Homo sapiens: one gene and its partners. The protein of the gene in region 2 interacts with the protein of the main gene of each other region in a biochemical or structural test. Each region holds a gene or a part of one and is shown on either strand. Other genes may lie near its edges. The genes, in order: NAGPA, EPS15 and ABCA4.

The links.
Region 1: the proteins of EPS15 (region 2) and NAGPA form a complex in vitro, tested with the Homo sapiens proteins (one study listed by BioGRID).
Region 3: the proteins of EPS15 (region 2) and ABCA4 interact in a surface display test, tested with the Homo sapiens proteins (one large-scale study listed by IntAct).

What each region holds. Positions count from the first base shown.
Region 1 is NC_000016.10:5,027,609-5,031,053, forward strand, and holds part of NAGPA (N-acetylglucosamine-1-phosphodiester alpha-N-acetylglucosaminidase precursor), read right to left. Parts: intron 2,886-3,445; coding exon 2,777-2,885; intron 1,401-2,776; coding exon 1,272-1,400; intron 578-1,271; coding exon 372-577; intron 286-371; coding exon 238-285; intron 1-237. UniProt on the Homo sapiens protein: Catalyzes the second step in the formation of the mannose 6-phosphate targeting signal on lysosomal enzyme oligosaccharides by removing GlcNAc residues from GlcNAc-alpha-P-mannose moieties, which are formed in the first step.
Region 2 is NC_000001.11:51,407,746-51,411,394, forward strand, and holds part of EPS15 (epidermal growth factor receptor substrate 15), read right to left. Parts: intron 1,952-3,649; coding exon 1,790-1,951; intron 588-1,789; coding exon 390-587; intron 1-389. UniProt on the Homo sapiens protein: Involved in cell growth regulation. May be involved in the regulation of mitogenic signals and control of cell proliferation. Involved in the internalization of ligand-inducible receptors of the receptor tyrosine kinase (RTK) type, in particular EGFR.
Region 3 is NC_000001.11:94,118,991-94,122,739, forward strand, and holds the start of ABCA4 (retinal-specific phospholipid-transporting ATPase ABCA4), read right to left. Parts: upstream 2,159-3,749; 5' UTR 2,056-2,158; coding exon 1,990-2,055; intron 1-1,989. UniProt on the Homo sapiens protein: Flippase that catalyzes in an ATP-dependent manner the transport of retinal-phosphatidylethanolamine conjugates like 11-cis and all-trans isomers of N-retinylidene-phosphatidylethanolamine (N-Ret-PE) from the lumen to the cytoplasmic leaflet of photoreceptor outer segment disk membranes, where 11-cis-retinylidene-phosphatidylethanolamine is then isomerized to its all-trans isomer and reduced by RDH8 to produce all-trans-retinol.

The DNA of each region.
Region 1 (3,445 bases), on a different chromosome or scaffold from region 2:
GATTTGAGGTGGGCCCTGGAGCCAGAGCCCGGGGACCCTTGTTTTAGCCGAGCCCTTTGTGGAACGGGCCGCAGCAGCCACAGGGGAGTCACACAGTGATGTGCAGGTGAGGCCGGGGCAGAAGACAAGAGGCAAGCATTTCCCAGACCAGAAGGTGGAGACAGAAGCAGCAGAGGAGCAGTGGGGGCTGCCGGGGGCCACCGTCTCCCCATCCGCTAGTGGCGTGGCAGCTCCTACCTTCACTGCAGTTGGACCCGGTCCATCCGGCATCACAGCGGCAGCCGGCTGCCGAGACAAGACCGGGGAGGCCAGGTGAGGGCCTAGGGCAAGGCAGGGCTGGGCAGAGCCCCCTCCCCAGAACCCCCACTCACTCTCCGTGCACAGTCCGTGCTGGCTGCAGTTAGAGGGGCCACAGTCCAGCTCATCACAGCCGGGACCCCGCCAGAAGTGCCCGGTGCATTGGCAGTGCCCGTCCACGCAGGTCCCGTGGCCGTGGCAGTCAGGCGGCTGGCAGCGGGGTTCGTGCACACACACCACGGTGGACACTTGGCGGGGACAGCGCCACATGTTGTCCTGGCTGTAGAGGGATGTGATGTGTGAGGAGAGGACACCCCCAGACGGCCCCTCAACTCCCTCCAGGCTGCCCCCAACCACCCCTCTCTCCATTCTCACCTGTCTACCTACCTACCTACAAGATGGCGTCTATCTATTTTTGAGATGAGGTATTGCGATCCTTCCACCCGAGCCTCCTGAGCAGCTGTAACCGTAAGGTGTGCACCATCACGCCTGCCTAATTTTTTTTTATTTTTTCATAAAGACAGGGTCTATGTTGCCCACACTGGTCTTAAACTCCTGGGCCCAAGCGAACCTCCCACCTCGGCCTCCCAAAGCACTGGGATTCCAGGCGTGAGCCCCTGTGCCCAGCCCTCTCCAGTCTTTTATAGGTTCCTCCGCTCCCTACAATCCCTCCCAGCCCTGGGCCTTTCACATGTGGTGCCCTCTGCCCGGAAGGCTCTCCCACCCCCACCCAGCTACCACCTCCTTCAGATCTCAGTTCTTATTCTGTCATCCTCAGGGAGGTCTTTGCTGACCAACTGACCCTGCTCCTAGGCCTGGGTAGTACTGGCATCCTGGGGGAGGGACTGCAGCAATTTCTGCTCTCTTGAACCCCCGGGGCCTGGCACATAGCAGGCACTCAATATTGGCTGAATGAGACAGGCTGGGGCAGACCTGGACTTCAGCCCTCACGAAGGCGGCTCTCACGTGCTTACCAGTGATCTGACGGGTAACTGGCCAAGGTCCCGTTGAGCACAAAGGTGGCAGAGCCACCCCCATCCAGGTTGATGGCGTTGACCACGTCCTGTTTCAGCAGGAACTCCGCCATTTCCCACAGGTTGATGCTGCGGCACAAAGCGGCGCTGCTCAGGCTCAGCGCCCACCATCATTTCTCATTTAACTCCTTTTCCTTCCACAGTGCAGAGCATCACGCCCACAGTGCAGGCACATTTCTAAGTGGCCCCCGCCCCCAAGCATGTCTCATCCTAGCCCCCGGAAGCTGTGAACACGTGAGATCACACCCATGCCTGTGCTGTTACATGGCATAGGAATCCTTAAGGGAGGGGAAACGGCCCGGAGGATCTGGGTGCAGCCACTGGAATCACAGGAGTGTTCAACACAGAGAGCCTTCTCTGGCTGGTGACAGAATAGGAAGTGAGATTTGAAATACGAGGGGGATGAGAGGGTGGCCGGACAACTGGGGGAGAGGACACACATGGGAAGGAACCTGGGCAGCTTGAAGGAGCTGAGGCCCCAGATGGCGGCCAGCAGGGAAACCAAGACCTCAGTCACAACTGAGGAGGCGACGGGGATTCTTCCAACAACCTAAACAAGAGGATTCTTTCCAGATAAGAGAAGAGCCCTGCCTAACCAGCATCTTGGTTTTGTCCATGGGACACCCTGAACATAGAACATTCCAAGTTGACCAGCCTGGCCAACATGATGAAACCCTGTGTCTACTAAAAATACAAAAATTAGCCAGGTGCGGTGACTCACGCCTGTTAATTCCAGCACTTTGGAAGGCCGAGGTAGATGGATCACCTGAGGTCAGGAGTTCGAGACCAGCCTGGCCAACATGATGAAACCCCATCTCTACTAAAAATACAAAAATTAGCTGGGTGTGGTGGCGGGTGCCCGTAATCCCAGTTACCTGGGAGGCTAAGGTGGGAGGATCACCTGAACCTGAGAGGTAGAGGTTGCAGTGAGCTGAGATTGCACCACTGCACTCTGGCCTGGGCGACGGAGTAAGACCCTGTCTCAAAGAAACAAACAAACAAAAGAACATTCCCTGCTGAGTGTTGCTAAATTTGTGCTGGTTATGCAACCAGAGCAAACCAAAACACTCTCTTTACAGGGGCTAGAAATGAGGCTCAGGGAGGCCGAGGGACTTGTCTACGGCATAGGTGGGTAGACAAGTCATCGATGGCTAAGCTGGGATTGGAACCAAGATCTTCTCCCTGCTCACTTTGTGACCATTTCCTTGTATCCTATCTAGGGTTCAGGAAAGGTGAGGCCTAAAGCTGAAGATGATGAGTTCTTGGAATCGGCAAAGATCTCAGAACCCTCATCCTGTGGGAAGGTGAGGGGGCCCTGGGAGGGGGGACAGATAGGTGTCAACATCCCAGAAAGCAGGTAGAGTCAGAGGGTGGCTGTCATTGGGTCAACGTTCCTCCTAGCAGGACTGAGCCCCGGCCGGGGGGCCTCAGCTCCCAGGACTCACCCACGCTGCTCCGTTTGGCCGTCTGCATGAAAGAGCACCAGCTGCCCTTTCCGGTCGTGGCCAATGGCCGTCCTGGCTGATATCACATTCACAAATTTGCTAAAGGAACCTGAAGGAAAAGCAGCCTGGCTGATCACCGCCCCTTGGGAGGCCTCCTGCTTCTTGCCTAACTCCACTTCCCACTGGTCTGAGCTACCTGGTACCTCCCTGGGAAGCACAGCAGCCTCCTTGCTCGTCTCCCTGCCTCCCCTCTGCACATCCCAGTCTCCCCAGGGCAGCCGGGGGGTCTCTTCTTACAGGTAAACCAAGCTATGCCAGCCTCCAGGTGAAGACCCTCTAATGGTTTCCCCTGTTCTTAGAACAAAATCCAAAGAGCCAGCATGCCCTCCCCAGCCTCTTCCTCCTCCTGCCTCAGCTCCTGGGTGTCCCCTCACCACCCTGCAGCCACTTTGCACTTCCTGTTCCCTCTGGCTGGGAACTGTGCTTTTCTCTAGCTTGCTCCTTTGTCAGATCACCTCCTTAGTGAGGCCTTCCTTGACCGCCCACTCTTTTTTTTTTTTTGAGACAAAGAGTCTCGCTGTGTTGCCCGGGCTGGAGTGCAGTGGCATGATCTCAGCTCACTGCAACCTCCACCTCCCAGGTTCAAGCAATTCTCATGCTTCAGCCTCC
Region 2 (3,649 bases):
ATGCTAAAATGTCTTACAGGTTTTGCCTCATTAATCCTCACAGTGGCCCTAAGGGGTAGGGTATTTATTAATCCTCCAATTTTGAAGATGAAGAATCTGATACTAAGGTGATTTAGCTAGTAAGTGGCACACCAGTACTTAAACCTAGACCATCTAGCCACAAAGCCCACACTCTTAATCACTACTCCAATGATAATCATCAGATAGATATACAAGATGTATGATAGTTTCAATATATAACAGGTGACAAAAAAACCTATTGTATAAAATGACTGAAAAATGAACAGTAAACTAGGCAAGAGGTTGAAGGAGCAGAAGTTGGAAAGTATAACTGACTAAAGGACACAGAGGATCCATTTGAATATATTTCTTGCTTTACAAAGACTTACTGAACTAATTTCCTGTTGTGAATCTTGTAGGTGCTGCTGAAGAGGTTCCAACTGAGCCTTCCCTGACTCTACACTCTCCTCCAATTCTGCTGTTTCTTGCTGTAGACGGCTCAGCTCTTCTCTAGCTTTTGCCAATTCTTCTTCGTAAGTGGAGATCTGCGATTCCTGACTAGTTAATTCAGCTTTCAGAGAAGAGATCTATAATGTGAAAGTGAATGAGAAGAAATGGGGATTAAAAGAAGAGATGTCATTAAAATGTTCCAAAATGCAATACATTTATTTGTTTAGTTTACTATTTTGGTGTTTTTTTTGACAGCAATAGCAAATAATTTATTTAATTTAATTTTTGAGAGAGAGAGTCTTGCTATGTTGCCCAGGCTGGATTCAAACTCCTGGGCTCAAGTGATCCTCCTGAGTAGCTGGGACTATAGGAACATGCCCAGCCATACCTAGCCCTATTATGGAGTTTTTGATGTTGTTGTTGTTGTTGATGTTTTATTTTTTTGAGACAGTCTCACTCTGTCACCCAGGCTGGAGTGCAATGGCACGATCACAGCTCACTTCAGACTTCAGGCTCAACTTTCCCAGGCTCAGGTGATCCTCTCACCTCAGCCTCTCGAGTAGGTGGGATTACAGATGTGGGCCACCACGCCTGGCTTTCAATTTTTTTTTTTTTTTTTTTTGAGACAGAGTCTCGCTCTGTTGCCCAGGCTGGAGTGCAGTGGCGTGATCTCAGCTCACTGCAAGCTCCGCCTCCTGGGTTCACACCATTCTCCTGGCTCAGCCTGCCGAGTAGCTGGGACTACAGGCACCCGCCACCGCCCTGGCTAATTTTTTGTATTTTTAGTAGAGACGGGGTTTCACCGTGGTCTCGATCTCCTGACTTCGTGATCCGCCTGCCTCGGCCTCCCAAAGTGCTGGGATTAAAGGCGTGAGCCACTGCACCCAACCAGCTTTCATATTTTTTGTAGAGATGGGATTTCTCCATGTTTCCCAGGCTGGTCTCCAACTCCTGGGCTCCAGCAATTCCCCCCGCCTCAGACTCCCAAAGTGTTGGGATTACAGGTGTGAGCCACTGTGCCCAGCCAATTATGATGTTTTTTGATGTATGGTTTTCGTAAAGAAGGGTAACTGGGGGAGGGACAGAGGAGAGTTGAAGGTATAGGCACCATATTTCCAACAAAAATTTGGAAAAACAGTTCATTAACTGCCCTTCTATTTCCTCTAAAGAAGGCCTGTAATTTCTGGATGAACCTTGCTCCATCGCCCCCATGAACCCAAATGCTGACTGGATTGCCAACCACCACCATCAATAACAAAAAGTAGAGAATGTTTTCATCTTAAGCCAGGAAAAGCAACTAATGTATAGGTGCAGGCAGCAGGAAACAGCCAGACATTACCAGTTGGGCCTCCTCAGCACATTTCTTTCTGACTTCCTTGAGTTGCTCCTCCAGCTGGGCTTTCTGCTCATCCAGTTCATCAAGGAGTTCCTGTACCTGCTGTTTCTGGGCCTGTAGTTTTTGCAGATTAGTATTCTCCCTTTGAACTTCATCTTGAAGATCCTAAAATCCAAGAAAATTAATATATTTATTTTCTTTGCGGGCAGGGGAGGGTTAAGTTAGTAATTTTAAATCTACCTTAAGAAAGAATAAAGTCTTACTGAGTATACTGTGTTGATGAGACTAGGGTACTTAACAGCTTTAAATACAATCTTTACTTGAAGACATCTTTCCTAGAATCCATATTTAGATATTCAATTTGCTAACTCAAATCTGTCCTTGGACATGTGATGGGCTTTGCTAACATGTTGAAAATAGAACTCCTGGAATTTCCCCACAAATCTGTTTTAAGCTCAATCTTTCCCCTCTCAGATTCTCTGGTCAAAAAAAAACCCCACATGGAGAAACCCTGTCTCTAACAAAAATGCAAAAAAAAAAAAAAAAATTTAGCTGGGCGTGGTGGCGCATGCCTGTAATCCCAGCTACTCGGGAGGCTAAAGCAGGAGAATTGCTTGAACCCAGGAGGTGGAGGTTGCAGCGAGCCGAGATCATGCATTGCACTCCAGCCTGGGCAACAAGAGTGAAACTCCATCTCAAAAAAAAAAAAATTAGCTGGACGTGGTAGTACGTGCCTGTGGTCCCAGTTACTTGGGAGGCTGAGATGGGAGGATCTCTTGAGCCCAGGAGGTCAAGGCTGCAGTGAGCTGTGATCATGCCACAGCATGCCCAGACTGGGCAACAGAGTGAGACACTGTCTCCAAAAAAAAAAAAAAGAAAAATTAATTCCAGGTAAATAATGGACCTGAATGTAAAAGTCTAACTTTAAAATGTGTAGAAGAAATGCAGATCTCAGTGTAGGAAAAGATTTCTTAAAACAAAAAAAGAACCATTTTGAAAATGTTATTTATTCATCCATGTACATACCAGACCTCATGCTTAATAACAAGAACTACAGAAATTTTTAAAAAGCCAGGCGCAGTGGCTCAGGGATTAATAACTCCGAAGTATCTGTCAGCAGGAGGTAGGCAAAGATTTCAAAGCGGGTGAGGTAAAACTGAACACAAATTTCTAAAAATAATATCTATTCAAAGGTCCCAACAGTCATTCACCAGAATAAGAATCTAAGAACAGAAGAGAAACTTACAGGTAAAAGGTCTCTGAATTACTGCATAGGTTACACAAGATAGCACCATTATGATAATAGCCAACACTTTAAATGCTACTTAAAATGTGCTAGGTTGTGCTCTAGGCTCTTTAAATATACTAACTTATTTATAGTCTATATGACAGATCTACGAGTTAGGTACTGATATCATTTCATATTTTACAGATGAGAAAACTGAAGTACTGATGTGTAGGTAATGTGTCCAAAGTTAAAAATAGTAAGCTATGGATTCAAAGTGGGTTCTGACTCCACAGCCTGAGCTCTTAACCACCATGTGACATACCATCTGCAGACTAAATGTCTCACATGTGTCACTATTTTTCAAATATATGCAGATGTTTCTGTGATTAAATAGAACACTGAACAATGCTTTCAATAATTGCTTTTTATCTTATATTTTCTTAACCAACTGGTTAGTCTAAAAATATCATGTTGCTTTCTTTAAAAAATTCCTTTAAAGCCCAGGCAGAGCAGGCAGACAAAAAGGGAAACTCAAAGGCAGTAGCCTTTGAATTCCTCAATGATACTTGAGGAATTCGGACAATGTTTGATGAGTATCATCAACTCTGCAAAGAAAGGCAAAAAGTGACCCTTGT
Region 3 (3,749 bases), about 43 Mb from region 2:
TTTCTTATGGGAAAGAGAGAACAATGGCATATTGGATTTTCCTCCGCAGTCCACAGATGCCTCACATAGGCAGGGGCTGGGAGGTCTTGTTGCCATTGTATACCAATGAACCTAGCACGGTGCCTGGAGATTATTTTTTGATAGAAGGAAAGAATGAATACATGAAAAAATTTAATCATGAGGTTTTTTTTTCCAGTTTTATCAGGATTTTCATGCAAGAAGGGAAGCTCCTAGAAGAAAGGACTGAGTTTCTGATTACTCTTAATACTTGGCCCCTGGAGACAACAGATAACTTCAGCACCAGGCTTGACAGAGGAAAGTGACCTGAGGACAATGGTGCTTCCCAGACAAGTCAGGTTTAACTTGTCTCTTCCCCCTGCAGCCTCCCTGCGTCCTGGGCCAGCCACACACAGGTTTTGGAGCCATCCATGCGCATGGTTGAAGCGTGTCCCATGCTGCTCTCTTTTATGCTGGTTGTTAAGCTATTGTCCCTCGGCCCCACATGCACCAACCTGCCAGGGCTTTCTCCTCAGGGGTCCAGACCCGAGGTCAGGTTCAGAGATCCAGCAGCAGCCTCCATGCACGCCTTCCTCCCAAGTCCTAATGTCAGCTCCACAGACCTCTCATCTATGCTCCAAGTCTTAATAATTCCTGTCTCTTCCCTTGGTTCTCTCAGCCCTAGGGGTGGGAGCTGTGTCCTGCAATTGCTACCTCCATGATACCTTAGAGTTTCCTTTTACTCTCTCAGGTACCAGCTCTGTACTTAGCTAACACCTTTTCATATTAAACTCTAAGGAGACCCTAACTGAGACACTCATTCATAGGCCTTCACCTGTTCCAGTTGGCCCCATCACCTACATGAACTTATTCTGAACCGAGATTTGGAACAAATACTGTTCTCTTCTCGCCTAAAGCAGGTCTCCCTCCCTTTCCTCCTGATCTCTCCAGTGGCTTGCAGCTCCCAGGGTCCTAATCTCACCCCTACCCAGCCCCCATCCCTTATCCCCTCCTTCCTCTTTCAGCTCCTTTAGTCATCGGCATTTGCACAACTCTGCAAGGCTGTAGCAAAGTGCATTCTTTCTTTACAGTTCTATAGTCACTCCTTATCCTTTCCCAGAAAAAATTGCACAAAGCCAGTTGTCATTTACAAGTACAGTCTTGGTGTTCTCTGATCTCCGGCACCTTTTGCTCGCACTTCTCATGGACTATTCCACCTATGCTACTTTATGTTGCTCTTGGTCTCCAAACGTACTTTGGGTTTTCCCAGGCAGAACAGAAGCCAGTCCAGGGTGGAATCTGTGTCGTGCTTTTAGGGCTCCAGTCTAACCCAGGCTGGTGTCTGCTCATTGAAAGAGTTCAGGAAATGTGCGTGATGGTTAATAACGTATTGCATCTCACAGAATCTAGGACGCAGTCAATTGTAAGACACACTGTTACTTTTCTGCACCACTAAGAAAGAAAAATAATGTGTCCAGTTAAACTGTGACTTGATCGTGAGCTGCATCCCAATTTCAGAAATGCTAACATGTGAAAAAACAATGTGCCTCAGAGAATCAATGAAATAAGGCCTCACTAAGCTGGGAAGCTGTTCGAGGGGGTTCTTGCTTGCCTTTGGCCTGCTCTTCAGGGCTTAAAGTTCTTCCCACTGCTCAGCGTGGATGCCCTAGAGAGCGGTAGACTGGACAGGCAGGTGTAAAACGGGGGGTGGGGGAGGGGCGGGCAGGCAATGGATTGACAGGCACGGTAGGCAAAAGATTTTCATGTGGCTGAGGACAGAGAAACACATCTTCCTGGGAAGGGCACTGTCAGAGGGGCCCACAGAAAGGCCGTCCAGCTAAACACTGCTTCAGTGCTAATCGGCGACAAGCCCACTGACTGCTCACAACCCCCCACCCTGCCCCACCACCCTACCCCACCACCCCACCCCACACTTCCAACCTGTTTATTTGCTCCACACCTCATTTTTAAACCACAGACAGTAACTGTTACCTTTTGCCTTTTCCGCAGGGTCCAGTTCTTCCAGAGCAAAAGCTGTATCTGTCTCACGAAGCCCATGCTAATGACCACACGAAGACCAGATTGGTCAGAGCTGAGGCCCCTCAGACAGCAAAGGACATAAACGCCGTTAAGAGCGCCTCTGGCTCCGGACGCTGTGTCCTTCTCCTGGTGATTAAAGGCTACTTTTCCCCTTCAAAGCATAATCCCTTTTAATTACACATAAGCCCTTAGTTGGGGAGAGGAGGCCGACACTGTGTTGGCTCCCTTTTATGGAGAGAAAGAGAACCCTAAAGACACAAGTGGCTGGGCACCAGGGAAATTGAGGTGGGGGATGCAATGGGAAACCAAGACCCTCAGGCACTCTCCTCCATGAGAGGGGTTCCTGAGGGGGATGTCTTTAGGTATCTTTGACCTTAAGTTTGGAACAAAATCTCTTTGCATAAATATAGGCTGGGCATTTGTCCTCGGCAAGAGCCTGCCATGAGCCGGCAGTCAGGGTTTGACTGGCCCTTTAAGTCCAATCGACTCACTCGGCAGATCTGAAGTGATCCCTCCCTCTTTTAGTCTTTTATCTTGCTCCGTAATGACTGAAGTCATTATGGTCAGCTAGTTGGGTTATCTCTGAGCTTAGCAGAGGGTAATGATGTTTATCTCTTGTGCTGAAATTGATCGACTAGTAGTGGCTGCTTGGTGCTGTGATGGAAAAGGCACTGGAACACTCCAGGCCCAGCAGGACAGAGCCGTGACTGACTTGCAATGTCTGACTGGGGTGCGGGTATGAGGAGAGGCAGCAGGTGGGCCCATTACTGTCATTCCAGCCCTGCAATGGGGTGGTGCTGGGTTGACTCATCACCAGGTGGGGGATCTGTGATCCCAAGGGACACCCCAAACAGAAGCCTCCCTGGCACTTCGCAGTGGAACTTTTTGTCTCTGCCTCCTCAAATCTCAGAATGTGTTCTCTTTGAAAGACTCTAGACCCTTGAGACCTGGATGGGGCGGAGGGAGAACCACAGAGAGGAATGGATGCTGACTTCATAGAGTTTGCGGTCTGGTTGTAAACACGGGACTTGAACTCGAATAACTCAAGGAGTGTGATGAGGGCCCATAGGCTGTGCATGGTGGAGCTTCCAAGAAGAGAGAGATAGTTTCTGCTTATGATGGCAAAAAGGCTCCTTGGAGGTGATGGCATTTAAGACAAGCTTGCAGAATTACAAAATAATATTTTATAGTAAGTTTATTATTTATAAACTGCTTTTGCATATGTTATTTCATTTTAGCCTCACTACAATTTTGTGAGGTCCATATTTGCTGTTTTACAGATGAGGAACGTGAAGCTTAGTGAGATTAAGTACTTTGCTCACGGTCCCACATGGCAACGGTGGGTACTTGAACAAGTGAGTCATTTAAACTCTGCAAAGACAGGGAGGAATAGCTTATCTTGCCCAGGAAAACCACAAGTGAAACATGGCTGGAGTGAAGGCTATGAGGCTATGAATGGAGGATGCTGGAAAAGGAGACAGGAACCAGACTGAAAAATTGATGATGATGATGATGATGATGATGATGATGATGATGATGACTGATTCAACTGAGATTTACTGAGCACCTGTGAAGTGACTGGAGTGGCCCACAAGTGCAGGCTACCCCCAAGCAAGCTCTGGCAGAATCATTAAGACCTTGTTACATGCTAAAGGATATGGGTTTTATCATGCTGAAGATGATGAAAGATTTTAATCCAGTGGCTGCCAAGA